2 separate regions of the Homo sapiens genome follow, and region 2 is linked to region 1. The links come from fine-mapping of genetic effects on gene expression. A gene starts in region 1. The other region holds a variant in brackets. All regions are shown on one strand. Distances are from middle to middle.

What was found. PIP is the estimated chance that this variant, and not a neighbour inherited with it, causes the effect. A credible set is the group of variants that fine-mapping cannot tell apart.
Region 2: its variant is the best candidate, but not a certain one, in a credible set for the expression of JAZF1 in follicular helper T cells (Schmiedel 2018, PIP 0.75).

Annotation. Positions count from the first base shown.
Region 1 is chr7:28,173,324-28,188,655 of GRCh38, reverse strand. JAZF1 (JAZF zinc finger 1) reads left to right here and starts at 7,861. Exons shown (of 5, transcript NM_175061.4): 1 at 7,861-8,193. The coding sequence starts at 8,079. It overlaps JAZF1-AS1 (JAZF1 antisense RNA 1), which reads right to left and starts at 8,199. Exons shown (of 4, transcript NR_034097.1): 1 at 8,117-8,199; 2 at 2,904-2,986. RefSeq lists silencers at 1,300-1,500, 8,667-8,786 and enhancers at 8,641-9,140, 9,141-9,642.
Region 2 is chr7:28,144,974-28,160,305 of GRCh38, reverse strand. The region is part of intron 1 of JAZF1 (JAZF zinc finger 1); the gene reads left to right. Among named protein-coding and RNA genes, the nearest start is that of JAZF1-AS1, 28 kb to the left of the region's middle. The variant T/A (reference allele first, on the strand shown) is at 9,195.

The DNA.
Region 1 (15,332 bases):
AGGAAAAACAGGGGGTGCAAACTGGAAGGTTCATGGGCCAACTGTGGGTTGCAGGTGGAATGTGTTTTCCTTCCAGTGTTTTAAAAGAACAGTTCTCTCCAGGTCACCATTGCCCCACCATTCACACAATACAAAGGTGCATTCACACACCTCTTCTCTCATTGCATCCTGTGTCTGACCCTAAGGCTTCTGAGTTTGAGGCCTTATAAATAAGAAAAGTCATTACATATATAAGGTAATACAGAGAAGAAAGAATCATTTATCTTGGCAAACACATAATGGGATGAAAATTACAGAAAGGCAAATTGAGTTATAAAACCCAGGGGAAAAGTCATTTCCTAGAGAAATGACTGGAATCTGGGTCCATTTTCTGAAAGGCAAAAGTAGCCTCCACATTGGTCCAGATCTGGAAAAGAAAGGATTGAGCTGCAGAGCCCATTGAGATGACGTTTAATGGGACTGTTTGTTCTGTGACTCTGGGAACAAAAATTGCAACAGAAAATATAATTATGCCAAACAATTAGCTGAAAGGCAACATGAGTTAAGTCCTTACAAAACAGGAGACAAAGATAAAGAGCATGACAAAAGCAAAAGGGTCACCTTTCCTCATGAGAGGTGATGCCTGTTTTCCCTACTCCACCCCAAAATCACCAGCAGGAAGGCGCAGAGTGGAGGTTGTCAGGAACAGGGTGAAGAGCAACCCAAGGGTATCTTTTAAAAGTCTGACGTCTCTATAAAGTTTAGTTTTAAAATAAGGTATTTAAGACCAGAAACAAGCTTGGTAACAGTAATGAGAGGACCTCCCAATAGAGAAGCAGAGGGCAAAAGACAAGCCAAGAGCTTCAGTTCCTGCTGGAGGCCTCATGACATCTCCATCATCAATTCCCCATCCTGATTCTCAGTATCCTCACCTAAGTGCATTTGGCAAACTAGGATGCTGTTGCCCCTCTAGCCTAGTTTCTGTGATTTATGTGAGCATGGGCCCGCCCCCAGATTCAAGGGGAGAGAACAAAAGTGTTTTATAATCCACAAATTCAAGTACGGGTAGAATGTTAAGTGCCAGGACTCTGGAGTCACACAGAGCTGAGTTCAATCCTAGTTCCAGCACTTACTAGCTTTAAGGACCTCAGCAAGTTACCTTATTTCCCAGGGTCTTGTTTTTCTCATCCATAGTTTGGGCATAACAGCATTTGTCTACCTCATAGGATTTAAGAACTGCTCTCTGTTAAGGCATCAAGTCCAATAGTAGGCACTCAATGAATGTGGTAATAGTTATTTAAAATAATCACCATAATGAATTTGAACATCTGTGTAAAGGGAAAGGTATCGTAGTCAGTCTACGAAAGGAGAGCTAGTGTCAGATCTCATGTCATTGCTGAATGGCTCCCTGCTTATCTCTGTCCAGTTGAATGGCTTTGCGTCAGCAGAGACTAGTAAACTAGCACCATCAAAACAAATGAGACAAGCATTTTCTAAGTGCCTGTTATTGGCGCAGCACAGTCCCTGTGCTAGACCTTAGAAAGAGGTCTCGTCAAAAGTGTGTCCACAACCACGGGAAGGAATGACTTGTAATCTATCCAAGCTAAGAGATTGAAGACTATCTTTCCTCGATGCTACATTAGAGAGGAACAGTAACAAATTGTTAGAAATTGCTTTAACATTGAAAACTGAAGTCTTAGCACACTGCCTTATCACAGTGCTGAACTATACTCCCATGCAACTTTTATTGAGCAGTGCAGGCCTAAAGATAGTTTCTCTTTGGGAGGCCAAGGTGGACGGATCATGAAGTCAGGAGATTGAGACCATCCTGGCTAACATGGCAAAACCCCGTCTCTGCTAAAAATACAAAAAATTAGCCAGGTGTGGTAGTGGGCGCCTGTAGTCTCAGCTACTCGGGAGGCTGAGGCAGAATTGCTTGAACCTAGGAGGCGGAGGTTGCAGTGAGCCGAGATGGTGCCACTGCACTCCAGCCTGGGCGACAGAGCGAGACTCCGGCTAAAAAAAAAAAAATAAAAGTTTCTTTTCTCAAGGAGGCTACCATCAAGTGCAGAGGCCTCCAAGGAGGAATGCATTCACCCCAGGATGTGGGCCAGGCAATACTCTGCGGTATGGTATGAAGATACTAGGCCTTCTATTCCTGCGTTTTAAAAAGAATTTGATTTATTTCATAACACACATACTACATTTGGTTTTGGTTTAGAGATAGAATCTCACTCTGTAGCCCAGGCTGGAGTGTAGTGGTGTGATCATAGCTCAGTGTATCCTTGAACTTCTGGGTTCAAGTTATTCCCCCCTGCCTCAGCCTCCTGAATAGCCAGGATTACAGGGGTGTACCACCACACCCAGCTAATTTTTTAGTTTTTTGCCAGACATAGGGTCCTGCTATATTGACCAGGCTGGTCTCAAACCCCTGGCTTCAAATGTCCTCCCACCTCAGCCTCCCAAAGTACTGGGATTATAGGCGTGACTCACTGTGCCCAGCCTATAATATACATACTATATGTGAAAAGTAGCACCTGTATATAATTTATAAGTAAATATAAATATTAATGAGATCAAGGTTCAAGTGGATTCTTGAGCAAAAGGTTTGAGAACTACTGGTACACAGGAGATGGAAGACCAGTAAGCCAGCAGTCAGAATCTGATGCAGAGGGAATTTGGCTAGAACACAGATGACAGGCATCCAGCTCAGCAGGGAAGGAAGAGGAGGAAGTTATAGGGAAGGCTTCCTGGAGGAGATGACATGCTGAGTTGCTGCAGAGTATTTGGGGGAGGGAATAGGGAAGAGGGAAAAAGAATGTTCCAGACAGGCTACACAATATTTGCAAAGAAAGGCAAGGTGGTTTTTGTTGAACAAGTGAGCGCATTTTGAAAACTAAATGACAGCATGCGGTGGCTCATACCTGTAATCCCAGCACTTTGGGAGGCCAAGGTGGTTGAGTCCAGGACTGCGAGTCCAGCCTGGGCAAATGGCAAAACTCCATCTCTATAAAAAAATACAAAAAATTAGCTGGGCATGGTGGCGTGCACCTGTAATCCCAGCTACCCAGGAAGCTGAAATGGGAGGATCGCTTGACTCCAGGAGGTCGAGGCTGCAGTGAGCCGTGATCGTGCCACTGTACTCCAGCCTGGGCAACAGAGTGAGATCTTATCTTAAAAAAAAAAAAAAAAAAAAAAAAAGAAGAAGAAGAAAGAAAACTAAAATGATTTGGTACATCTTGAACTGTCAGTACATGTGGGGAAACTGTAGGAGGTAAGGCTGGGATCAATTTTGGTCACTGAAAAGCAGGAAGCCTATTCTGGTAGTGAAAGTTACCACTAAGACATTCTAGCAGGGGAGATGAGATCATGGAGTATTCCCAATTTGATCTTCTAGTCCAATCTCCAGTGATACTTGTCTGAGTCCAGAGGAAACGGACTGCAATAGTGTGAGCTGGTAAAACCTCAAAAAGCTAGAACAAAAAACGTGCTAGTAGCCTTTGAAGTTATAGAAATCCTCAAGACTGTGCATTGCTGGGTGAGAATCAGTGACGTCTAAAAACACATCTTTGGGCAAAAAAGGCTGTGCAGTCTTTTACAAGCATTAGTGGCCTTAGTGGCTCCATTACAGTCAACAGCAACTGAAGTTATCATCTGAGTGAGCCAAAGCTGGAAAGAAGGGAAATAATAGATACCAGAGCAGCCAAGAGGGTAGTACACGGAGTCCAACCAAGCCACCCCTAGCAGGCCCTTAGAATAGATTGAGGAGGACTTTGCAAAGCACCTAGTGCTCTCTCACGTGAGGAGAGACTGGGCTTGTCTTATTCAAATTGTATCCCTCATATCTTGCGCAGTGGAACAGGACTGCAAGGCTGCACAGATCCCAGGGTCACTGTTCATGCAGTTGCCTATATAAATAGAGCCTTCTGGAGTTGTGTAACAGGAGCTTTGCATAGATGTTCAATCAAGATAGGTTAAAGGCAAAAATGAAACAGTAATTGCTTAGCTGCTTCTGTTAACATTATTCTAAAACTCAGGTTGGGGTGGCCTGAGCAGCAGTGGCTCCCATCAGATTTGGGTTTGGAGTTATCATCTGGGTAGTAGTGTGGCACATAATGTAGTGGAATGGATCCAGGATGCTCAATTAGAACTGCAGTGATTGGGTGGGTGTTTTACTACTTTAGTTCTGGAAAAGTCCTTCAAGGAACTGGAAATAAATGCCAAAACTACGTATACAGTCAGTAGGCAGGAGCAGCCAGGTGGAGAGCTAGGGGCTAACACTCATGAGGTCACTGGTGGCAACTAATAAGAATACCCCCATTACTCATTCTAAGGCTAGCTCTTAATCCTAGGCAAAATGAGACTGAGGGACAAAATGAGAATTAATCACCAGAGAGCAGATAAAGCTGATTCATTTCTGAGCTGGAATAAAATAAATACAGAAAACTTGGTTACATAAATATTAAACAATAAAACCTGGAATAGAAATCATCCTCCTTAGAAGAAGATGGAGCCTAAAAAGAAGGCATCCCTTTGAGCCCAAGGTTGCTGTTGGTGGAAGTGGCAGCCTTAGCATTCAAGAGCCAGGGAACATCAGACATTGTAAGCGTCCACAGACTTGCATGAGCTGAAGAAGACCAAGGTTCATGATCTGCTCCTTCGACACAGTGGTGACAATAGAAGAAATATCTAGTAAACCTGAAAAGCACCTCAAGAGGGACCTGGAAAACAATCTAAAAAGCCAGAGAAAGCTACAGTTGAAGGCAGTATAGAGTTAGATTCAAGATAGAATCTAATGTTCATATAGATCCTCTTGCATCATTAACAGATGTCCACACAGGACACAGGAAGTGCACGGTTTTGATTATCAGTGTATGCCAAAATAAACCAATTCCTGTATGTGGAGGACAGACAGCTGTATGAAGCAGGATCCTCAGTGTCTTCAGTTGGCTCCATTAGACCAGTGGATTCACACCTTCCGGCAGCTGCCCCATCTCGAGGGCACTGGACATGCTGGATTTGGGGAGACTGTTATGCGATCTCAAACCATTTGTAATGCTAAGTACCATATTATGGGGCCACTGCACATCCATACTTTGTGCCTATACATTGGGAGGCACTGGGCTCTGGGGAGAGACAGATGGTTTTCAAGAAAAGGCTCTTAAACCCAGAGAATGCTTCTTGTCTACAGCCACTGTCATATCATTCTGACTTCTCAGTTCCCTCACTTTCCCTCTCCTTTCAAATATTTTTACTTTCCAAATCAGACAGATGTTTTTTGCCAGTACAGAGGTATATCAGTCATCACCTTCTCTCTCGGATGTAATAAGTTGAATTGTTTGTTTTATATATTTTTGTAGCTTAGATGTTGACTTTATCTAAAGGGATATCCTGGAAACAAACATTTTAAAAATATAAGTACAGAAAGGTAAGCATGCTATTAGCAATTTTTAAAAAACTTTGCCTGTGGTTACTATCTATATATAATTTGTCCTTCTATTGTCTATCAATGCCTTCTAAATGCACCATGAGTACAGAGAAAAAAACTGTCTGTGTGCACCTGGGAGAACTTGCTTGATGCCCCGGCCTCAGTTTACCACATCTCCAAAACCAGTGGTTCTGACAGCCAGAGTATCTTCCAGGTCTAAGAGATCACAATCATGTATCTTATATAAAGACCGGAAATGCCTAGAGTGTACAGATTTTTAAAAAGTAGTATGAGCAGAACATCACATAAACAAAGCTTCAGTCACATATGAAGAAGTAGTAGGGTGGATTATTTTCAGGCAAAATGAACTGATTCCTTACAAAACAGTAATAATTATCCAAGGTAGAGAAAATAATTTTGTCTTAAAAACCAATATCTTGATTTACTTTGGAAGTTATTTTAGCTCACTTCATTTTTTAAAAAATCTATTTTTTTCAATTTGGTCTAGCAAGGTTTTATTTTAGGAATAGTGAAACTGACAGGAGGTAGTAGAAAGCCATGCATTAGTGAAACCCAGGCCCCTTACTTCCTTCATCTTTCACCTGCACATTTCTGGCACTTCCCATCTCGGAACTCTCTTGCCTGAACCACCTCTCCACACTCTTGGGAGTTAATAACTCCACGTAGACAATTTTTCCTCTGGAGGACAGAACTGCTACTTCTTCAAAGCTTTTGGGGCTCCCAGATGCTGCATAGTGGGGGTGCCTAACATTCATCTCTAAGGGTGGCTGTTTTGGCATCATTTTTGGCTGAAGTTTTGTATTGCATTTCCATGTCATTTGGTGTGGTGTGTGCCTGCCAGATATTCTGCCTGCTCTCAGCTGAAGGCCTTCCCAGATTGGGCAGCTGAATGTACTGCACAGCTGCCAAAATTCTAATTCAAGATCTAGAATTCTAACTCCTGCTCTTTAGACCCTTGTCTGGCCTTGGCCTCAGTCCCCTGCCAACTCGGTCCCTGGCTCATTATCAGGCCCACCAGGGCCCTGCCCCCACCCTCATTGGGCCCATGAAACCATTCTTGGCACCAAACTGAACTTCAAGACACAGCTGCCCCAGCCCCACCCAAGCCGAATCTCATCTCAGCAAGTTTGTCACCTTGTGAGCTGCAAGACAGAAGAGATGAGAAGAGAAAATGCCACCGGTGATGGTCAGATCATAAAACTTCCTGTAGCAACAGACATATTACATGTGCCTTTACTCTAAGCACTTACATGAAAAGCAAACAATCCCATTATTAGAAATAACACTAGACAGAGATGCATAGAGTTTATGGAGGGAGGAATACTATTTCTCCATGCATCTGCACCAGAGGGTAAGTGAAATTTGCCCTAAGGAAAAATGCTAAATTCAGTATGCATATATTAATATTAATAAAAAAAATGTACTGTTGGGTCATAAACTGCTGATAATGTGTAATATTTCTTAGACACCTGGAAAAGTGCTACTGGAAAATACACACTTTACAGAAGAAATATGACTGCAACTGGAGGAGGGGGTGGGGACAAGAAAGTAATTGATTCTCAGCAAAATGCTGGTTTTCAGGGAAGCTACTAAATTCACCTTAAGTGGTTACCTGGTCAACATTATGCTTTAAATGCTCACAGGATGAAATCGCTTCCTTTTTAAATGAAGAGTCACTATGTCCCTTGCCGTTGTTTCCGCTCCTTCTAGCCTTAACCAATGCACTGTCCTTTCTGCAGTGGCTGAAACGAGGATGGGTTAATTACCAGACCTGAGATGGTGGAGTGGGTGCAGTAGGGTGCTGTAATTTCGGGTGATGAAATTATTTTAGTTTTTGTTTTCCTAGAAGGAGCAGGGAGTATAAAAAACGTGGCACATATGTAAAACACAGGCAAATGCACTTGACAACCAAGCACTCTATTTTGAAATTTAAATAAAGCTAAGATTTTTTTCTGGCCTAGAGGGAAAGCTTCATTAAAATCAATTAGTTAGTACAAACCTCCGGAGAATGTGTACTTTTTCTAAAGAAGGTTTAAAGAAGAAGGTGCACACAATTACCTTTCCTGGGTCCCCTGTGAATGTGTCACACCTAGACAGGTGGCTGAGTACAAAAAAATGTCCCTGAGAGGGACCAGGGTAACTCCCTGAGTTCTCCTCGCAGGGAGGTAGGTGTAATTAATCGATGTGGGTGTATTAAGAACGTCATATACATAACCAAGGAGGCTCCAAACAGATGGCACGGATGGCAAGCCGTAAAGGGCAGGCCTAGCGAGATAAAGTTGGTGGCAGGGCTCGCAGGTGAGGCCTGGGTCCGCGCGCTGAGGTTGGGGCCGCACAGCTGTAGCCGCGCGCCCTGGTCCCTCCTCCCAGCTGCGGCGGCCTTCCCCCCCCGCCCCCGCCCCCGCCCTCCCCCCGCCGCTCCCGACGCCGCCGCCGCAGCCGCCGCCTCCCCTCTGCCTCCCGGTGGCTCCTCGCTCTCCTTCCATCTCTCTCGCCCCCTCTCCCTCCGTCCCGTCCTCGCCGCTCCCCTCACCCCGCCTCTCTCCCCCTCCCCCAGCCCCTCCTCTCCTCACCCCACCCGGCCTCCCTCCCTCCCTCGCCCGCCCGGCGCTCGCAGAGCCGACACCAGGGGGGCTCTCGATGTAGCACCATGACAGGCATCGCCGCCGCCTCCTTCTTCTCCAATACCTGCCGATTCGGGGGCTGCGGACTCCACTTCCCCACCCTGGCCGACCTCATCGAGCACATCGAGGACAACCACATCGGTAAATGGCCCGGGGGTGGGCGGGGGTGCCAGGCGCGCGGAAACTCCTGCCCGGGCGGGGAGCCCCGGAATGGCCAGGGGTGGCCGGCGGGGAGGGAGGCGGCAGGGCGGGGAGGGCGCGTGCGAGCCCCGAGGTGGGGGTGGCGGGATGCGGGGGCGCGAGGTGCCGGGGGGCGGGGAGCGGGCTCGGGTGGGGGAGGGGGCGGGCGCCCCGAGGTGCCGCGGGCGGGCGGGCGGGCGGCTGGGGGACTCAGGGGCGTGCACGCGGGCTGCGAAGTGGTGGGAGCGGGGAGCGCCGCGGCGGGGCGGCGGGGTTGCGGCGGCGGGGCCGAGTGCCGGCGCGCGGGGCGCGGGGCGGAGGGCGCGGCGGGCGGCGGGAGCTGGGCGCTGGGCAGGGTCGCGGAGTTAGTTGGCCCGGGTGGTCGGAGTAGCCCGAGGCGCTGAGGGCAGCGGGGGGCGGGCGCTGCACGCCGCCGGGCGCTTCCGCCCCGGCTCGAGCTGTCAGGGCTCGGCGGCGGCTGCAGCCGCGGGGAGGTGGAGCGGGGGGGCGGGGGTGGCTCCACCGCGGCAGCCATTCCGCTTCCTCCTCCCGCCGCCGCCGCCGCCACTGCGTCCTGTCAGCGCCGGTTGCTAGGTGTGGTGCGTCGGGAGGGGGCCGGGGCCGGCGGCCGCGGGCGGGGGCCGGGGAGCTTGCCCTCTCCCTGGGAGGCGGCCGAGGGGCCCGGGCGGGGCCGGGGACGCGGGCCCGGGGGCTCTGGGTGCCCTCCCCTGCCCCGGCCTGGCGCGGACGCCCGGGCGCTGCGGGCTGAGGTCTTGGGTGCGCCCGCGGGCCGCGCCCAGCGCCCCGGGGTCGACGCGCCCTGGAGGCCCCTGCGGCGGCGCCCGCTGGAGAGACACCCCCAGGGCCCATGGCCGGGCATTTAAATGCACCCCGGCTCTGCGATTTGCCTTTCTAATGGTGCTAGGCCCGAGGTGCGCTGGCTGCGCCCTGGGATCGGCGGCGGCCTGCGCAGCGCCCCGGGCCCGGGAGACGCCGGGGAGGGGGCGCCCCGCAGGGTGGCTGCTTTCCCTTCACGCCTGGACCCCTGGACCTTTCAACAAGTCCTCTGATTTGCAGAAGTCATTGCACACATTTTCACACTTCTATTCGGAACCCCTGCTAAGGGAGGTGGGCCGGGTGCATCTGGCTTAGGCGGTCCAACCACCTGCGGAAGGTGTGACCGACGCCAGCGAGTTGTCCTGCGTGGGCTAGAAGGTGAAGGGTCCGAGCGATGTCCCAATGGGGCTGTCTAATCCAGAGAACCTGTAAATTGCCCCCAGGAAGTCCAAATGAATGCCATGGATTCAGCCATGTGGATGCAGCTCACGTTTCTACAAAGTTGAGAGAATAAATCACGACTGCTGTGTATTTATGCAGGAATAAAATGAGGCAGAACCCTATGCTCCTTTGCTTAGTATAGTGCTGTCTCTGCACACAGTGGCTGCTTAATAAGTGTTGAATGCCTGTTTAGAATGTGATTTGATGGGCCATCCGGAATAGGAGATAATCATGGGAAACGTCTACAAAATGTCTTTCAGAGGAAAATGCTGTTGAGTAATTGTCCAGGTTTTGAAACTTTTCAAGTTTTCAGGCGTCCTTGTAATAGCTTCTTCCATTTCCTCTGCTAAAGGTATGACAGAAGAGCTGGGCAAGTTTTGGTAGTCTTAAAAGCAGTTTAATGGAGCAACCAATTTGCTGATTCATATCATGATTGAATAGTCATAACTGAAAGTGCTTGAAAGTATTAAATCAGATTTTTCATGATGGCTAGTTTAAAATAAAGCGAAAACACCGGTACTGTGAAGTTCTGGTAGAAATGTTACTAGTTCAAGTTCTTCCCCTTACTCCCAATAATAAGTAAAAAATAAATATAGATAATGCTATACATTAATATGTATGATATAAGTAATATAAATAAATAATTTCTCTTGACTTACAGAAGGCTGTCATTGCATATCCCATCCATTCTCGCTAACAGTTATTTCAGAATAAACTATAATTTATATAAGCTGAGTAATAATTTTACCCCATTGCCTACCTACTTAGACAAGCTGGTTAAAAGACAGTATAAATTATATTTATTAAAATGTGTTAAAGACAGTTATCCTTCTTGAGGATTTAGTTTGAGATGGTTTAAAACTTGGTGAATCATGAGGTTTTTTTTTTAAGTGTAGAAATTGTCTTAATATTTTGCACACATTTTTAAAGAAGGTTAAGAGTTTGATACGTTTTCTAAAACTCAGCTTTGAAGTAATGCTACCTCATTCCCAGAAGGCTAGTGTTGTCCTTTTAATAGTGAAAATGTGGAAAAATTAAGTTTACAGCAATAGCAGTGACCTAGGTGAACTGTGTTGCAGGGCTAACACAGTTGAAAACAGTTTGAACCAGCAAACTTTATGAAAAGCAAATGTTAAAATGAACAAACACTTGCAATTCCCAGGATGAAGAGGCTCAAACTATTATACACTTCTGCTGGGGAGAGGCCCTTTACTATCAAAGGCAGCCCTATATGCAGAAAGAAGAACTGATCTTAAGAAGAATAAAAATATCCCAATTAGTAGATAGTGTCATATAAATACACTTCTGATGAAAAGACATGGGTGAAAATATAAAGCATTTAGTCAAAGTTCTAGACAGGTATTGTTATGTGGTATTTATCGTTTTTGATTCAATCTATAAGTATTTGGAGACCGTTAATGATTGACTTACTGATTTCATGTCTGTTGGTGAGTGGTTACATTAAAAAGATTCATGAAAAGAATAAGAGGTGTGTTATTTTGCTTTTAATTTGTTCAACAGTCTTGTTATTTAGCAACCGTGAGTATTAGAGATATGCTTAGGTGAGCATTCCATTTTGGGGGCCTATCTGGGTTATTACCTTTAGCCACTAGTAAAAACCCTTAAACAGCGATAAAATGAATATTTATGGGAATATGGTGTGTTTCTTGCTTGGCAGATTTTTCAAGGCCTGTGTTTTTCATTATAAAAGTATTATGTTTAGTTTGGATTAATTAAGTGCATTAAGTTGAGAATAACTCTCTGTTATCTTATATGTGTATGCTTAACTTTTGTTTTTAACTGTTTTCCTCTCCCCATAATGAACAAGGATTTGGGGGCTTTAGAACCAAGGGAAGTGTGATTTTCACCACCCACTTTTTTAGCTCTTTTCTCTCCTGGAAGAGTGCTGTACCGGTGTTCCTGTTTTCTTTCTTGCATTTCACTGCTGGTTCAGTACTGGAGTACCTGTCTCAGTGTATACACTGAATATCCTAGCTAAAACTCTCCCCCATCCCCACTTAAATTTAAATTGCCGAGAAATCCCGTAGCCCTGCAACTGTGAAGTGCTTTTCCATCAATTTTGTTATCAATTCATTCATAGGTCTGAGTCTGTTACATGGAGATGGGAAAAGCAGGTCCAGGTTTGCTTGCTTCTTATTTTGAGTAGATAATTGAGTTTGTAGAAACATTCTTGGTATGAACATCCTAGATAGATGAAGTTAAACTGGTAACTGGGAATCTTAGAAACACCAGGAGCACTAAATTTAGCACTGAAGGTCATGTCCCAGGCTCATGAAATGCCGCTACAACCCTGCATCCCAGTGCTATGAAATCGTATGGCTTTTTGTCTGAGAAACACAACTGTTGAATCATTCTTATTTGATTATTTGGTGCATTTTTAAAAGTACCTCTGCATTTTGAATTTATTTATGTAATAATATATATTGAGTCCCTAGTTTATGCCAGGCAAAGTTATGAGCACTTGATATTTTTTGGTTAACAAAATGAAAATATCACTCTTTAGGAAGTTTATATTCTAGGATAGGGGGCCAGACAATAAACAATTGAGGTATGTGATACACAGTATGTTGGGAGGTGGTTAGTGATACAGAAAAGAGAAAAACTAGATCAGGGTCCGGAGGGTTGGGAGGAGAAAGTATGAGAATTTTAAATAGATTGGTCAGGGTGGGCCTTGCTGAGAGGCTGATATGGGAGACAAAACCTCGAAGGAGGTGTGAGAGTTAGTCATGAGGACATTCTGGGCGCAGGCAGTACACAGGCCCCAAGGCAGGCCTGCAGCACTTGAATAGAAACACAGGAATCTGACCCAATTCAGTTATTCATGTGATCGTACCAGACTAGCAGGTCATTTAGAACTTTCCTCAGATGTTAGGATCCTCAGCTTTGCTATTGAAACATTTCCCTGCAAGGGCCCAGTTAAGGGGCAGAGTCTCATTGACCAAGAATGGCTTGCATTAGCTATGACTTGGTTCCTGACCCCGAATATCAACAGGTTTCTTGTTGTGAGTCTCTACTTGTTAGTTTCCTCATCTCCAAAACCCAGGTAATAAACCTACAGTGCTTCATTTCATAGTATAGATTTATAAACCGTCTAATTAATAAAGGTCAAAGTTTCTGTAAAAAAAAATCAGGGCACTTACTATCAAAACTGTAGAATTTAGCTCCTAAGATGATTTAGTAAATATTTGCATTATCTTCTCAAAGGAGCATCACAGTGTACTAAATAGATAAGCTGTGCAATATGTCATAGGTCCTTATTACTCCCACTTTTAGGTGAGCAAACTAAGGTACAGTTTATAATTGCCTGAGCTTTCGTGGCTGATGTGTATGATTTGAGATTTGAATTCCAGACAGGTATGCAAAGCTAAGCCTATGCCAGTTGCCAATTAGGTGAAGAACGTGACAGTCCCCTCCTCACCTCCCCTCACACGATTGACTCTGTTTCCTCCTTTAGAAAGTAACTGAACTCGAGATGAAGGTCATCTGAGCAGTGGCATAGCGAATCCAGCCTGCTTGGAGTTGAACACACATGTCTGCCACTTGTCCCCCTTATGACCAGGGGCAAATTAACCGTACTATGCCTCCTCTGTAAAATGAGGATAGTAGCAGCATCCATCTCACGGAGTGGTTAGTGAGGATTAAGTGAGATAATATATGTGAAGTGTTTATCTACAATAATAAGTTGTCTACATCATCTAGTTTCTTGCCATTTGTGTATCTGCTAAATAAATATGTAATCCTACTGTCAGAGTCTACCTTCGAGATTAACATGGGTTGTATCCACCTATTAGTGGTGCTGTTTTGGGCATTTTATAACTATGACATCATCAGGCTCTTCCTGGGAAGGACTGAGAATGGAAAATAGGAGACTCCTCAACAGTCTAGTGCTGGTGTTGCAGCCTCTGGCCACGTTCTCTTTTGTGTGGCCAGAGGCACTTTACACCCTGGCAGAGGCATTTGCCACAGTGGACTGGGAAAGTGGTGTCAAAGCCAGCGGCTTCCAACATGGCCTTTCCTTGTGGCCTGAATTTATTTGAAAAAATCCAGGACTAGAAAGAGGCACTGTGCCTTGGGCCTGTGGGTGCATTCCATTGAGGACACTTCCTGTGGGGAGAAGGAATGACTGAATTAATAAATGAATGAATGAAAGGCTTGTTGCTGCCTGCCCTGCTCTCTGCCTGTGCCCTGTGGCTTGGCGGCAAGATCTCCCTGTTACTCCCAGGGTTCCCGAGAAGCCCCCAGGTGTAATGCTAGGAGTTTTAAATACATGTGCATACACACACACACACACACACACACACACCCACACACCCCATAGGCAGGATCAGGGAACCCGAAATCTGAAACTTTACGGCAGTCTCCAAAACTCTGTTTTCACTGGTTTTTCCATTAGCCTCTTCTCACCTGTAAACAGTCAGATCATCCTTTATAAAACATCACTGTTGAACATCCTGTCTCATAAGTTTCACAAGCTTCTAATTGTTTTCATTTAGTATACACATTTTCTGACATGTGACCGAAATGTACAGACACCAGAACTCTGCCTGTAACTGACTGGGTTGACAAAAACCCACATATTCTTCAGAAAATGGTTTCCTTTAGAGTTCATATATTTCGGAGATATCTCCTACGTTGACAGTTCTAGAAATACAAACTGACAGCTGTTTTGAGAAAACCCAATTCTTCCCGTAGGTGACAGTGAGGATACCTTAAGGCTGGCACAGGCTGGTGACACTTGATGAGGGGCTTCCCTGGGACTGTTTGGAAGCCAGAGGCCTGGTGTTGTAGACTGAGTCTGAGAGACAGGAGACAATGTTTCTGAATTCCTTAAAAATCCTCCTTTTCTAGTTTTAGCTTCTAGGGCAACAATCATACATACCCCACATTCCCTTATATTTCTCTACCCCATTCTTACCCCCGCCTTCAGATCTTGACAGTACAGACGTGTCCTGTGTACAAAGAAATACTTGCTGGATTGTAGATACTCATTTTGTTTCATGGTGAGGTAATAGATTTATTCCATGTTGACCTGGCTAACGTATTAAGTTGAAAAATGTTATTTATTTAGAATCTGAAGATAGGAAACCATAGATGTCAGAAATTTATTATGTGTGTATTTTTTAAAAGTGCCTTCCATTTAATATATTTAATTGCTGTAAAGAAAATTGTATTTTCCCCTCGCTGTAAGCACTGGAATGTTGCAGTAGTTTTCACCTACTTTTTTTTTTTTTTTTTTTTTTTTTTAAAGCTAGCTGCAAGCAGGGACCAGATTAGTGGATATCCTCTTTAAGGGTGAAGTCTTTCCAATTGCTGTCAACTTTGGCAGGAGTCAGAGGGACTCTTCTTGGGTCACTAACAATAGACTGTCTGCCCAGCACCAGAGAGCACTGATAGTCCCCTGACGGCCATTGTCCCTTGCCCAGCTCACCCACTGGCCTCCCAAGGAAGCACTGTTCATTGTCTGCCAGACTACAATGGTGACTTTCTCCTGAGATAGACCTCCTTGAAGGGACATGATCTGGATGCCAGGTTAATAACACTGAAAAATTCACCATTTCTTTGGTATTATAGATATAATTGATATATAGAAATAAATATATATTTTAGGCACAAAGGCATGTAGGATATCTAACACATATATAAATAATACATGTATATGTCTAATACACATACCACATATATGTGTGTACGTATATCCATATGTGTGTATATATTTATGTGTGTATATGTATACATTTGTATTATACATTTTTTCCCTCTCTTTCAAGATCACCATGGATAGTGAGGACAGCCACACATTT
Region 2 (15,332 bases), 28 kb after region 1:
GTGACAGCGGAGTTCTGCCTGGGTTATGCTATATTTGGGGTGTTTATGCAAATTCACGTTTCTCAACTCTTTTTTCACTATGTACCCCCATATCCTGGAGCCTTTTTTGACATTTTTTTCCTATTCCCATCCCTCCTCATGAGATTTTAATACCACAGATAAACTGTGCATCTGTTGATGTCCTATATGTAATCTGTGCTTTACACTTAGAGTGAGATTCCGTACCCCACCCAGAACCGATTTTCACCACCTGGAGGGCAGTATCACCCCATCATTCTGTTAAGTTCTGCTTTTTTGCTATTATAAGCAAATCAAACTCATGAAGTAGCCATTTTTAAACTATCACAATCTAACCTAAAACAACTTTTTAATTCAAAGCACTTTATTTCGTAATTATGGTTTCGCTTATAAGGGGTATCAGGGCTTGGGTGAATATTTTAAAAAATTGTTCAGGCACCAGGAGTGAAGTATGAGAATCTAGACTCCCCGTTTTTATGCAGTCTACAGTATAATAGGCTATGTGTACACCAGGAAGAATGAACTTTACTAGGTAAAACTGATTCTTCCTGCAGTTGGTAAGGAGGCTGAAGACTGCGACTGAAGCCCCATCTCCCAGTGCTGCAGCCTCCTCCTGGGCCTCCCTGCCTCTACTTTCTCCACCACCCTAGAGCTCGTCCTCCACAGCGGCAAGAGTGATCCTTCAAAATGTCAATCATGTCAAGCCACTGTGCTGACAAGGCTCTCCATTCCAACAAAAGAAAACCCAGACACCTTCCCAGGGCTTACGGTCTCAACACCTCCTGCCCACGCCCCCTCGAAGGTCCCACCTCCCGCCTTCCTCTCTGCTCCTGTGCTGCACCCACTCACGGTCCTCCTCTCCTGAGTTGGCCAGTGTTGTTCATGTCTCAAGATCTTTGCTCTTGTTTCTTCTGCTTGGGTTTCTCTTTAGATTTTAAAAAATTTGTTATATTAAAAATGAATTTAATTTTTAGAATAATTTTAGACTTACTGAAAAGTTGCAAAAGTAGTACAGGGAGTTCCCATCAACCCCACTCCCAGTTACTTCCCTGGGTTTTCCTATGAATATCCCCTCAGCATCTAAGTCTCATCTATTCGGAGGCTTTCTCTCTCCATGTCAGCTGAGTTAGGAGCCCACCTTCCTGCCTATTTTGCTATTGCATTACCCCGTTATGTCTTTTCATAAAACTTTCCTCTATCGAAATTGTCTTTATGTATTTGTTTGTTCAGCGTCTCTCTCCCCTCATCAGCTTGTGAGCTCCTTAAGGGCAGGGACTCAAAGCCAAGTGCACTGCAGTTCCCAGGGCCCAGGACAGTGGCTGGCACATAGGATGTTCTGACCTACTGACTGGCTTTCAGTCAGGGAAGGCTGGTCCAAGGCCTAAAGCCATGAGTGGAGAGCCAAAATGAGCAGCTCATTTTCTTGACATTCATTCAAATGCTCGACATCATTAAGCCCAGTCTATGTCCATATCAGATTGAATTCTCAATGGCAATCAAAGATAGGACTGCTTCTACAGAGGACCAGTCAGAAGTTATTTGGGTAAACTGATGGTGAGAGGACTTAGGCAAAAAAACTGGCTTTCCCAGAGTCACCCTATGAGACCCGCATCTTAGCCCCATGTATTGTTGCTCCTTTATATCTGAGAATTCTCTCCATCTCAGAGCTGTGCATTGCGTTGATGTGGGTGCTACCTTTATTCGGTTGTGGAAATAGGATCTAATTTGGGGCTTATGGGAATTGGAATTGCATTGGCTACTAGTAACAGACACCTGACACAGCAGCTTAAGTCAAGAATTCTGGAATTCACCTGTTGCTGTCTTCAGTGGTCCAGGATGTTTGTGCCAGCTGGAGTCTCTGCCGTTCTCTTCCCCTTTCGTTAGCACTCCTGATTTCTAGGCTTCCAGAAGGAAGGGCAGGAAGGCCAAAAGGGCTTACTGGAAAGCCCCACCAATAACTACTGCCTCCATTACGTTGGCTACCCCTCCTTGCCTTTTTATCTCCTGTCAGTCCCCTATGGACCATGGGTTTTGGGTGAGGCCCAGGCAGCATTAGGAAGTATCTCTCTCTCTCTCTCTCTCCCTCTCTCTCTCTCTCTCTGTGTGTGTGTGTGTGTGTTTGTGTGTGTGTGTGTGTGCGCGCGTGTTTTCAATGTGGTCTCCTTTCTCCCTAGGCCCAGAGTGCCTGCCCTCAACCAAGTTTTGAGAGGTCGAGAAGTATAATTCCCCCTGCAGGGCACATTGTGCAGGGTTCTGTTATGCAGAGATAAAGAGAGAATAGACATTGGGCAATCCCTGCTGCAGGAACCAACATGAGTGTTTATTCCTATCAGTTCTGCTACTTGAGAAACTTAGGAGGAGACCATGGGGAATTTAAGCTTACATCGGGGATTAAAAAAAAATAAAGGGGACTCTTCCATTCCTTAATTTTTTGTTCATTTTGAACAGTACTAAACTCAAACCGTGTCACACCAAAATGTGATTTTGTGTATGTAGGTGCATGAGTTAGCATTACATGCTAAGCTTCATTAACAGGGACCCTGAAATCAATTGTTTAAAAGAAGATAAAAGCTGTCTCTGTCACGAATGGAAGTAGACTGTGGTTCAGGGTGGATAGTATGTCTCCTCCACGAAGCTGTCTAAGGATGGGTTCCTTCTGTCTTGTGTCATCTTCCCATCGGGCAGGGGTTGGCAAATTGCTGCCCTTGGGACAGATTTGGCCTGTCTCCTGTTTTTGTACAGCCCGCATACTAAGAATAGCTTTTACATTTTTAAATGGTTGGAAAAAATGTGAAAATTATTTGCAACTCAGATTTCACGTCCATAAATAAAGTTTTATTGGAACACAGTCATACTCCTTATTTTTATACCGTCTGTGACTGCTTTTGTGCTGCAATGGCAGAGTTGAATAATTGTGATAGAGCTGATAGGGCCCACAAAGCCAAAAATATTCACTGTCTGGCTCTTTACAAAGGAACTTTGCCACCTTCTACTCTAGGCTGTGGTCCTGACTCAGTGCTTGAGGCCAGCCTCCTCTCACTTTGTCTGCTTATCAGCCTGTGGGAAGAGGGACTTAGTGGGCACACCTAGCTGTGGGGGTGCTGAGGAGATCAGTCTGCAGCTGGGCAGCCATTTGCCCAGCAGACACTCTGGAGGTTCTGCTATTAAAAGGAAGGAGAGAGGAGATTGAGTTACATTGAGCAGACCACCACAGGGGCTGTGTGCATGCACATGTATGTATGCTTTCAGAATCCACTGTGGTTGGTTGAAGGATATCGAAGGTCATCTTAATGGATATTGAAGACTGTCTTTATTTATACGTAGTATGGAGTCCGGTATAAACAAATATGGGAAATGTAGCATATGATGGAAGAGAAGGTATTTATCTGCCCTTTGATTCATGCATTCATTCAATGACTGTCTCATAAGAATGATTTCCCCCCTTGCTTGGTAGTGTTCTAGTTCTAGGATCTGAATTTAAATTTCTTGGTGACGTACTCTTGCTTATAGAGCAGTGGTCTCCAAGAGTGGTCTCTGGACAAGCAGCAGCAGTATTTTCTGGATTATTGTATTAGATGTGCAGATTCTCAACACTGTGTCCTCTTGCCCCACACCTACGAAATCAGAAACTATGGGGCTGAGACCCAGCAATTTGTGTTTCAACAAATTCCCAGGTAATTTCAATACACTCTTGGGAACCTCTGCTGTAGAAGATGTAGCGTTAATTCATAACTATAATGAGCGAATGGTCTTCTCTCTTCACTGAATGAACATTTTGTGCTTTCTGGGGAATCAACAAACATTTTCTCCACTTACCTAAACTTCTTATCAATAGTCTCTTGTACTCAGAAAATGTACACAAGTCAAAATAGACAAATCATATTTTGGCTCCACATTTATTCTAGCAGACAGTGGCAGACTCTGCCAAAGCCACGAAGTGACTCCCCATGCAATTGGCCAGGTGACCACCACCACCACACAGAGCAATCTCAGTCCTTGACTGGTTCCTCTGTGTGAAAAGGGGCCTCTACAGCCTTGACCCAGTGACTTTCAGATTCTGAGGAAAACAGACGCTTGATGCCTGTCCAAAGTAAACAGAGCCAAGAGAACCTTTCACAAGCCTGGTTAAGGATCGATGGTTCCACCCAAATGATTTAGATGATTTGGTGTTTAAGTATGTTGTTGCATAACTCTTGGCAGCCAGAGATACCAGTGTGCTGGAGTGAGTGGCAATTTGGATTGAATGAATAAGGTATCTATCAAGGGTGTATGTATATGTACATACCAGCTACTGTGATTTGGACATTACCTACATTAGCTTATGTAACCTCATAGACACCTTATCAGGTAGGTACCCTTATACCCTTAAGATAATTTTCCAGATCAAAAAGCAGAGGCATTGTGAGGTTAATTTGCACAAGATCATCTTCCCAGGAAGAAGCAGGGTTAGAATTTGGACCCAGGTATTTGGTTCCTATACTTCCCATGTGCGCGTGCACACACACACAGACACACACATACATTCTGTGCTGTCACAGCCTAGATGTGGTTGTTTCTCTTGGTCTCTTCTGCATGGGTCATTTCTTGTATGATAATTCTGAATTTAGGTGGAGGTTGTAGTTGCTGAATGGGCATGGGTGGCCAGGCCCTCCATACTGTGTTCAGTACCTTTGATGATTAACTCTGAAAGGGAAGAAAGGATTACTTAGTGCAGGCCAGAGAGCTGTAAAAGGTTCCTAAATTACTCATTTCCCCTCTGAATTTCTCCTCTTGCCTCGAAAACTAAAACACACTTTATAGGGGAAGAATGAAGACCGTATAACTCTGTGGCAGCACAGTTTGGTAATTAATGGACTTGTGCCTCTATCAGAAGAGTGATGTATTATTCCAGAGCCCTGTAGAATGAGTTAAACTGAGAGTGAATTATTTGGTTTGACTGATGTGTACAGTAACTGAAGATAGTTTATTAGTGGGCCAGGTTTTAATCTTCTCTCAAAATGAGTTCTCCTCATATTCTGCACAACTGCCCAGTCTCTTTCATGCCCTGAAATTGAGTAAAAGGAGAAGGTGCTAAAATGGTTGAAACAAGAAGTGAAACCTTCTGTTTCATCATATGTTCCAGAAAATATACAGTGTGTTTTTACTGCAGCCTCCTTTCCATCCCCCCTCCCAATCATTTTCATTAGTGACTGATGTGATTGCAGAGTGGTTTGGTGGGGAAAAGTACTTGCAACCAAATTTAGTAAACCGCAAGCCAATTTTATTTTTAGTTTTAGTGAGCAAGGGCAGATAGCAATTGCAAATATCTTACTGTATCTACTTCTAAGCTTTTACTTTTCTTTTTTTTTAATGTTTTGCCTTTTTCTCTCCCTAGTATGTTTTGTCTATTTTGAATATAATTGTTTTTAGGAGAAAAGGCCATTTTTTCCTTCTATCATTGAGAGCCCCCTTTTTTTTTCAATATTGTAGGCATCATCTTAGTAGGAAATAGAATATATTTATAATCAATGATGTTACAGAAATTTTGAAACTGAGAAATTAAGTACCATAATTAATAAAAGGTAGGAATAGGGAATCATAAATAATTATTTAGTATTAATTGTCAGCAGCAGCCTAAGGTTGCTCAGTGATAGATTAATAAGATCAAGCAGAAAAATAAAGGATCCCATTGGCCAGAGAATGTGAGTGGAATTCCTTTTTCACCTGTATGGCACAATGGTTGGCATTCAAGAGACATTCAGTAAATGTGGTTTGGTTAGTTAGTTGGTTGATTGTTGAATAAATGTTTGAGTCCTGCACTCACTCCAGAACATCAGACTATTGGATATGAGGTTAAGTTTGACCAGAGGATCTTGAAGAGGCTGTATAATGATCATATCTTAAGTACTAGAAGAGTCATTAGTGGTCTCAAACCCATCTGCTCTACCCATTGGAGACTTCTGTAGGGACCCTGACAGTGGCCCTCTGCCATGCTTGAACATTGTGATCACTAAGGGCTTATTTCACATCAGCTTATTTCAGGTCTATTCTGTTGCTGGACAGCTTAGATTATGGGATCAACTTGTGGGATTGTAGCAAAAGCTCATCTGCGCTTTGCAGATTCTTTCTTAAATAGTCATATAAGCCAGTTACCCTCATGGGTTGGGATGGGAGGGGGTCAGTCAAGGAGGACAGCAGTCCCCAAAACTTCGGGGAGGCTTTGTTAGGGGCCATCTTCATGTGTACCTCTTCATCCCATTATGAAAGTACCCAGGGACTGAGAATTCTTGGCATTTCCCAGTGTTCTCCCTGGATTTTTCATAGTGAAGTTTTGATAGGGACTTCTCTTAGAGTCTCATGATAATTGTTCCAGGGGGAGGGGGTAGAGGGGCAGGTAGGTGGAGGGCAGGAGAGGATACATGTTTTGCAAACAGTTCTGAGCTGCAGACATCCCAAAGCACCCCTAATAGAGGTATGGATTTCTGGGTATGGTGAGTGGTAACCCCACCGTGGTCATTGCCAGACCACATCAATTCTGATTGTCATATTCAATGAAATAAGTCTCTGTAGAAAGGCTATCAAGAAATGAAGGCTCTGGAAGCCATGAATGAGGAAGAGAAGAGGGACTGGTAATGCTTAGCTTGGTGAAGAGAACATAGTTCCAGATATGAGGAGGGCTGTCAAGAAAGAGGGAATAGGTTTGTTCAGTATGGCTGCAGAGAGTGAGACAGTTAGAATGGAGATGGCTATGGGATAGGTTTGCCTCAGGTAGAATTTCCTGGTATCGTCATCTAGAACTGAACAATCCTTTTTTTGTTTGGTTTTGTTTTGGTCTTTGCCTTTTTATTATAGTTGGGAAAAACCTGCAATCTGGTTATTAATGAAAATTTCCCCAATAGAAGTTACTCACTTTTTTGAATAATCATATTCTAAATATAGACTTTAGGAAAATAAATTTATAAAATACATTGTTGCTAATTTTTTTTTTTAGTGGAAGTGTGATGCTTTTTATCATTCGCAAAGAGCCTGATGCTTACATTTCATTAGTTTTATTTCAGCAAACATTTTCTGAGAGCCCACTTCCTGGCTGACAGTGTTAAGAACTGTATGCTCCAAGATGAGCAAACCAAGTAGTGTACCCTTGGAGAGTACTAGTGGCCCCACACTGCTCATAGGGCCATAGTGGAGGTGCTGATTCGAGGGAGAAATTATAATGAACTGGACATTGGTCTCTGGAAGTTGGAAATTACCTAGACTGCTCAACAAACCTTTTACATGATTTATAAATTTTAAAAATTCTCCCTAGAAACTAAGAAACTATATAATACGGCTTTGTGAAAATGCAACACCAATTTACACTGTTTTCAAAAACATGTAATCATAATAGTTATGAAAAAGTTGTAAAATTCAAATGTATTTCTGTGTATCTGTATTGGGTTATCTCTGTATCTTTCTTGTACTTTTTCCACTGCCATTTTTTGCAGTGTCCCCTTTTCAAACCTCCTACCTTCTTCCTTTTCCTGTCCTGTGTCAATAGACCTAGCTGAATTTCGCCTCTGCATAACTCATTCTTCAATCACTACTTTCTTATCTGTAATTCTTCATTAACTCGCTGTATTTACTTACTATTCTTGTATTTCCTGAGTCGAATTTTTAATTTTTATCTTTTTCTTTTACAAAGGAATAGTAAGTCAGGATTCATTTGTTATTACTTATATGGCCTTTGATTTTTCTTTTCCCTTTTCTGAGTCAATGGGAGATAGAAAAAACTAATCCAATGCCTGGCATAGATGAAGCATTGAGTATTAGAAGAAATGCAGTAGAGTTTGGGAGAGGAAAAGGTGTGCTCAGTAGCACAGTGGGGTAACTGGGAGATGGAGTGGGTCAGAGGGCCAGCTTACTTATACCCTGGCCAGGGAATTAGATTCAGGGTTTCATGAGTAGTAAGTCAAGCCTTTTGATTTATTCCAAATACAGGACTTTTAGGTATTCAGATGAATACTTGTGAAGTTGTTGAAGAGATGTAGCCAAATATGGGAAAATCGTATAGAGCAAAGTTTTAGCAACCCTGTCATGAAACCATGAAAGCTGATTCATTTCCTTTAAAAACCATCTATATCATTAGCTGACCTGTAGTAGTAGTTGTTGTTGTTTTATATAAGAGAACTTCTGATTCATCAACAGACCTAGCTAAATTTCCTCTGCATAGTGACATAATTAAGTCAAATCGAAACTCTCACATCATCATGTGAGGACGAAACTACGTAAAGACATGAAGCTGCTGGTTTGATTTGGGAAATCTAAAAATAAAATGCTAATGAGATAGATATACTAAAGTAGAAAGAAAAATAATTATTAAGTATATGTCAACATGAGCCACAATTCTTTTTTGTTTTTTCACTAGTAGAGTGAATTGTGGCAATTTATGACAATTGGATAATGCAGGTTTTTTAAAAACATTAGTTTTGACTCAAACTTTTAAAAATTAAAAGATTTTATCCTCTGTGTTTTTTTTTTGAGATGGAATTTCACTCTTTTTGTCCAGGCTGGAGTGCAATGGCATGATCTCGGCTCACTGCAACCTCCGCCTCCCGGGTTCAAGCCTCAGCCTCCCAAGTAGCTGGGATTACAGGCATGCGCCATCATGCCCGGCTAACTTTGTATTTTTTTAGTAGAGACAGGGTTTCACCATGTTGGTCAGGCTGGTCTCAAACTCCTGACCTCAAGTGATCCATCTGCCTTGGCCTCCCAAAGTGCTGGGATTACAGACATGAGCCACCGTGCCTGGCCTCATCCTTTGTTTTTGAAAGTATTGTAGAAAATATAGAAAATAAAGGAAAACATGAAAATAAATTATAGTACATTTATAAGACATAGAAAAGCATTTTTAAAATTCCCCCTCCAAGCCAGGTATGGTGGCTTATGCCTGTAATCCCAGCACTTTGGGAGGCCAAGGCGGGCAGATCACTTGTGGTCAGGAGTTTAAGACCAGCCTGGGCAACATGGTGAAACCTTGTCTGTACTAAAAATACAAAAAATTAGCCGAGTGTGGTGGCATGTGCCTGTAATCCCAGCTACTTGGGAGGCTGGGGCAGGAGAATCACTTGAACCCGGGAGGTGGAGGTTGCAGTGAGCTGAGATCGCACCACTGCACTCCAGCCTGGGCAACAGAGTGAAACTCCGTCTCAAAAAAAAAA[T/A]ATATATATATATATATCGAAAATCCCCCCTCCCAAGAGCTACTGCTGTTAACATTTGGATGCCTTTCCTTTCAGTCTTTATTTACATTATTAATTATTATGTATAATTTGTATTGTGCTTTTCCATTTGCCTTATAACTTAAAACTTTTTCACTTCTAGTTACAAATTCTTCATGCATGAAATTTTTAATGGCGTTACCTATCGAATGAGCACATTTTTATCTAAAATACTTGATGACTATACTTCACATGCTGCCTGCAGACACTTAAATGACTGGTGGAGTTTTGGACCTCAAGAGCCAGTCTCCTTCAGTTGTCAGGCCATCAGCATGGGCCTGGAGGCGAAGTGGCCTGTAGCATGAGAAGCAGGTGGACACACAGGCTTCCCTTCAGACCCCACCTGAGTGCTTCCTAATGTCTCCCCCGTGTGAGGCTTGGGCAAGTTGTGTGGCCTCTTAGGAGAGGAAAGCCCCTTCCTGTGCCCTGTAGTCATCATGCCCAAATGTGCAGACCAGGGCTGGCCCCATGACAGTGTTCCCACCGGTCCTCATGCAATGAGAAAAAAACATAGACACGCTGTCATGACTGTTTCTTCAAGTTAGATACGGCGGCATTTGTGGCCTTTATTCGAAGGTGATGCCTTTTGATGAATGTGTGCACTAAACTGTTGTTTCTTTTACAAAATGAAGATAATGATAGTCAATATCTTTGTTTTCTGGACTCTTCCATGGGCATTACTTTTCTTTCATGGCCTGCTTTGTGAAATCCAAAAGTCTGGAAGCAATTCTTTTGCAGGCCATCTGTGCCAAATTATTGGCAATTCCCTGAGTCCTCCCAGCACATCTTTGCTCACCCTGTTTCTACTTCCTTGAATGCCCACCTTTGACAAGATGACAGATTCTGTCAAAATTCCCTGAAGCAGTACCCTGCCCCCCGAAGCTTTCTGGACCTGCCTCCCCACCGGGCAAGATGATCCTGTCCTCCTTATAGTAACACTCATTTCAGTTACTCAGTCCTCTGACTGCCTCCCCTAGAAAGTTCCTGAAGGAAATGGAATCCTCTTCAGAAAACCTATCTTCAAAGAAGCCAGGTAATGTTTGTCAGGGTGCTCCTGGCAAGGGAATAGAGGAAGGTAAAACCTTCTTGCAGATTACGTGGGCGCTGTGTTTGCTCTAGTGGTCACTGCTGAGGCTCCTGCCAGAAGGGACTTTCCAATCAGCATTGTGAGACTTTGTTTTATTTCATCAGGGTGTTTATTTCCTCAGGGGAAGAAAACGTAGGGAAGACAATGGGAAGAAAATGAGGTGACTGCTAAGTGAATTAATCAGTAATTATTTAGCCCATTGCTATATCCCATGTTTCAGCAGATACATTCGTTTTAGACAGCTCTCACATTTAAAGATAAGTGACCTTTCCCCCCACTGATTCAAATTGAAGATCAATGTGTGCTTGTGTGGGAATCTAGTTGAACCTGTGGGTTCAGGCTTTCCCATTGCCTCTTTATTTCTGTGCTTTTACCAACTGGATGCACCTCCCTATTTCTGACACTGAGAAGTTCACCGGTGAGGGAGGCATGCCAAGGAGGACTTGCGATAGCCCAAAAAGACAGGGTCTCATAGAGCAGAGAGACTGGGGGTGGGGTGGGGAACTTTGAGTTTGACCCAGGCCTTTCTGCTTGCCTGCCTTTGCCTGCCTGTTTACATTTTGATCTTCAGAGGGAAAAAAATAGGTGAACTGTTGCCCTTTCTTTCTCCATGGACGTCTTTCTTGACACTGGCGACATACTTCTTTGGCACTTTTTCCAGTCTGATAGGCATTAAGAAAAAAAGAGGCTTTTCATGCATTTGTTGACAGAGCAAGAAAGGGGATATAGTTGTCTGGTTCAATTGCTAAGATATGAGAAATTGGGCTGCTTGAGGAGAGGAGGCTGTTTACAGGCTCTGCAGCCCAGCCTATGTGTGAATGCTCCCTGGTAGCACAGGAAAGGTGGCCCACCATCCTGATTCCTTCACCAAAAATGATGGGGACAGCACGTAATGCCAGGAGACAAAGAGTTATTTTTGCTCTACTTGACTTTGGATTGGGGGAAAGATTTGAGTACCATCTCTTCGTTAATATGAGAGCAGTAAAATAGATAAGTAAAGCCAACGTAAGTAGAAACCTCGCCTATCCTTAAGGACTCCTCAGCTGCCCATTTCTGACTGCGTAAACCGCAAGGAGGTTTTCCTCCTCCAGACCCTGAGTTGCATGTGTCATTCACTCAGCAGTGAATCAGTGAATCCTGCCTCGTTCCTTTGTTGCTGTCTGATTGTTTCAAGTGCAGTGAGTTTGTCTTCACAGCTAGTTCATGAGCTTATTGAGTGCAGCAACCATGCATTTTAATTTATTTCATTAAAAAAGATCTCTAACCTTAAGAAGGAACTTGGTAAATGTGTTTCAAATAAATGAATAGATGGATGGATAAATGAATGAATGAATGCAACAGTTTCTTAGGCCTCACTCTGATGATAACAAGTCAAGTCAAGAAATACTCAGATACGCCTTCTCAGTAGATTAAAAGTCCAAAGACTAAACCGTATGCTTAAAGATATTCCCTGGAGTCTATTTACAATAGCAAATAATTGGAAATATCCTAAGTGAGTAATGATGAGAGAGGATTGGTTCAATAATGGGTACATTCACTTGCTCTGCTATGCGGCCTCTAAAAAATTATGGTGTGTAGCAATCTAAAGAAACACGTGGGCCAGGCGCGGTGGCTCACGCCTATAATCCCAGCACTTTGGGAGGCCGAGGTGGATGGATCACCTGAGGTCAGGAGATGGAGACCAGCCTGGCCAACATGGTGAAACTCCGTCTCTACTAAAAATACAAAAATTAACTGGGTGTAGTGGTGCGTGCCTGTAATCCCAGCTACTCGGGAAGCTGAGGCTGGAGAATTGTTTGAACTCAGGAGGCAGAGGTTGCAGTGAGCTGAGATCGTGCCACTGCACTCCAGCCTGGGCAACAGGGTGAGACTCTGTCTGAAAAAAAAAAAAGTAAGAAACATGTGATAAAGTGACATACCACATTATATATATAATGCACAAAGATCTGGGAAACCCAGTTGCATGGGGATAAAGGAAAGAAAGAAATTTACCAAAATGTAAAGAGTGGTTGTGCTATGTTAAGAGTGATTTCTTTTTCTTTTCTTTTCCTTTTTTTTGAGACAGGGTCTCACTTTGTCACTCAGGCTGGGGTGTAGTGGTGCAATCAGTGCTCACTGCAGCCTCAATCTCCCCATGTTCAGGTGATCCTTCCACCTCAGCCTCCCTGTCCCCCCTCCCCCCAGCCCACTCCCAGGTAGCTGACACTACAGGTATGTGTCAACACACCTGGCTAATTTTTTTTTGTGTGTATATATATATGTATATATACTTTTTTTTTTTTGGTAGAGATGGGGTTTTGCCGTGTTGCCCAGGCTGGTCTTGAGCTCCTGGGCTTAAGCTATCCACTCGCCTTGGCCTCCCAAAGTGCTGGGATTACAGGCATGGCCCACTATACCCAGCCAAGAGTGATTTCTTTTCTCTATTTTCCAGATGTCTTGGAAGGTAGCTAAACTTTCATAATGTAAAAAAAAAAATTGTTTTTACTAGTAGAGGAAAAGTGATCTGAAAGAAATATGTTAAGTGTGTACAGTTGCTGAATCAGAAGGTGAGTACTTGGATACTTATTCTTTGGGCTTTTCTGTATGAAGGACATATTTTATAATTTTTTTATATAAAAAGAGAAAATAGTGCAGGTTGAGCATCCCAGATTGGAAAATCTGAAATCCAAAATACTCTAAAATTGGGTATTTTTGGGTTGCTGATGGGATGCTCAAAGGAAATGCTCATTGGGACATTTTGGATTTTGGGTTTTCAGATTAGGGATGCTCAACCAGTAAGTATAATGCAAATATCCCAAACGCCAAAAAAAATCAGAATTCTGGGCCAGGTGCACTGGCTCATGCCTATAATCCCAGCACTTTGGGAGGCCGAGGTGTGAGGTCAGGAGTTTGAACCAGCCTGACAAACATGGTGAAACCCCGTCTCTACTAAAAATGCAACAAATTAGCCAAGTGTAGTGGCGGGCGCCTGTAATCCCAGCTACCTAGTAGGCTGAGGCAGAAGAATTGTTTGAACCCAGGAGGCAGAGGTTGCAGTGAGCTGAGATCACGCCATTGCACTCTAGCCTGGGTGACAGAACGAGACTCTCTCAAAAAAAAAAAACAAAAAAAAACCACCAAAACGAAACAAAAAAAGCAAAAAACCAGAATTCCAAAGTGCTCAGGTTTCAAGCATTTTAGACAAAGGAAACTCAACCTATAGTAGATTAAAAGCAAGAACAGCAACAGTATGACTAGTGATAGTTAACATTATAGGAAGAAGATCAGAACTTCTATTTTTAAATGGCAATACTCTGGGACCATTTGGAATAGGGAGACAATTGTCTGCCATCCCTGAGGACAACTCTATTTAAGGGCTTATCATGCAGTCAGACTGTTGATAATGATCACTCTGCCTCATCAAGTAAACACTTGATTATATTCAGTAGACTCTGTTTAAGAAGGCATAGAATTAGCACCTTTTAATACTTAATTAGTACTTACAGTACTTAATAAGATAAATTTCAGTTATCTGAAGATTCACTCCTGTGTTACACCAGAACACCCTGAATCTTCAAGTGCCATGGGATAGCTCATGTCACCCTCACAGTGGGACAAGTTACAGATCATCTGGTATATCACTGTTCCCTAAATGGAAATACTTACTGATCAATCGATCAATGGGGAAACGGTTTTCCTTAATTTAATGTTGTTCTAATCTTTTACAGTCAAGAGGTTTCTTCAAGATGGTGGCCTGTCATCTGCTGGCTTCTGCTCCTTAGTATGGCTAGGCATTTCCAACTCTTTGTTTAAATTCTTGTTGGCTTGCCTAGCTTGACCCTCCTGACAGGTGCTATTTTTGTTCCTGGCCAAGTGGCCACAGCTGTGTTGACATTTCTGCCAAAGACAAAATCAAGGAAAGTCAATAAACAGTATTTAGAATAGTAGCATGGGGCTTATCTTAAGGCTTCTAGGAAGAGTAGAAAATTGACATGGAGAAATGGAATACTACTCAGCAATAAAAAGGAACAAACTCCTCATCCACATAGCAACATGCATGACTCTCAAACCCATCATACTGAGTGAAAGAAGTCACACACAAAGGCTACGTACAGTTTGATTTTACTTTATGAAATTCTAGAAAAGGCAAGACTATAGGGACAGAAAACAGCAAAGTGGTTGCCAGCGTCCTGGAATGGGGGAAGGAGATTGTACGAAGAAGCACAAGGGAACGTTATTGGGGTGCTGCAAATGTTCTGTTTTTTTTTTTATTGTGGTGGTGGTTACCCAACTATATGCATTTGCCAGAACCCATCAAACTACACACATAAAAATGGATGACTCTGATTTTATATAAATTGTTTCTCAGTAGCTGTTAAGTGATATGAGAAAGCTTCCAGTCACTTTCTGTGCTCTTTGAGGATGAATTGTTACCAAACCCTTCTCCCTCTTGTTATTATTTGTTGGATGCCTACAAGAAACTATGGTGCTAAATATTTAAAAATGCTTCATGTGATGTTACTTAGGGGTAAGATTAAGTGGTTGATGATTAAGCTGCAGAGTCAGCATATAATTTATTCTTATCTTTGGATTTTCCTGGTCTCCATTTCAGTATGTGCTTAGGCGTGTTTTCATATTTACCTCCAGTATTTTGGGAGGCATGACCTCTTAGTTTCATACCCTCAGTACCCGGAAAAGCAAAGAGTATACATGTGAACCTTGACTCACAGACTTTTTACTGCCCTGGACATTTTAGTTACCTTTTCCTTTGTCCTTCTACTTGCTGGAAATGTGGATCCGGTTTAGAAGGGATCAAGGATGGGAGCTCTCTAGGTTTATTTTTTTAATTTTTCTATCAGCCTAAATCATGCTTTGATCTCTTGGTTTCTTTATTCCTTGTTCAGTGATGCAAACTCACTATGACCTCTGTCATTAGATCTAGCAGTATTGAACGTGTTTGGATAGTTCTGTAGAAAATGATTTTTAAAACAGAAGAGGAGAGTGATCTCATCTCC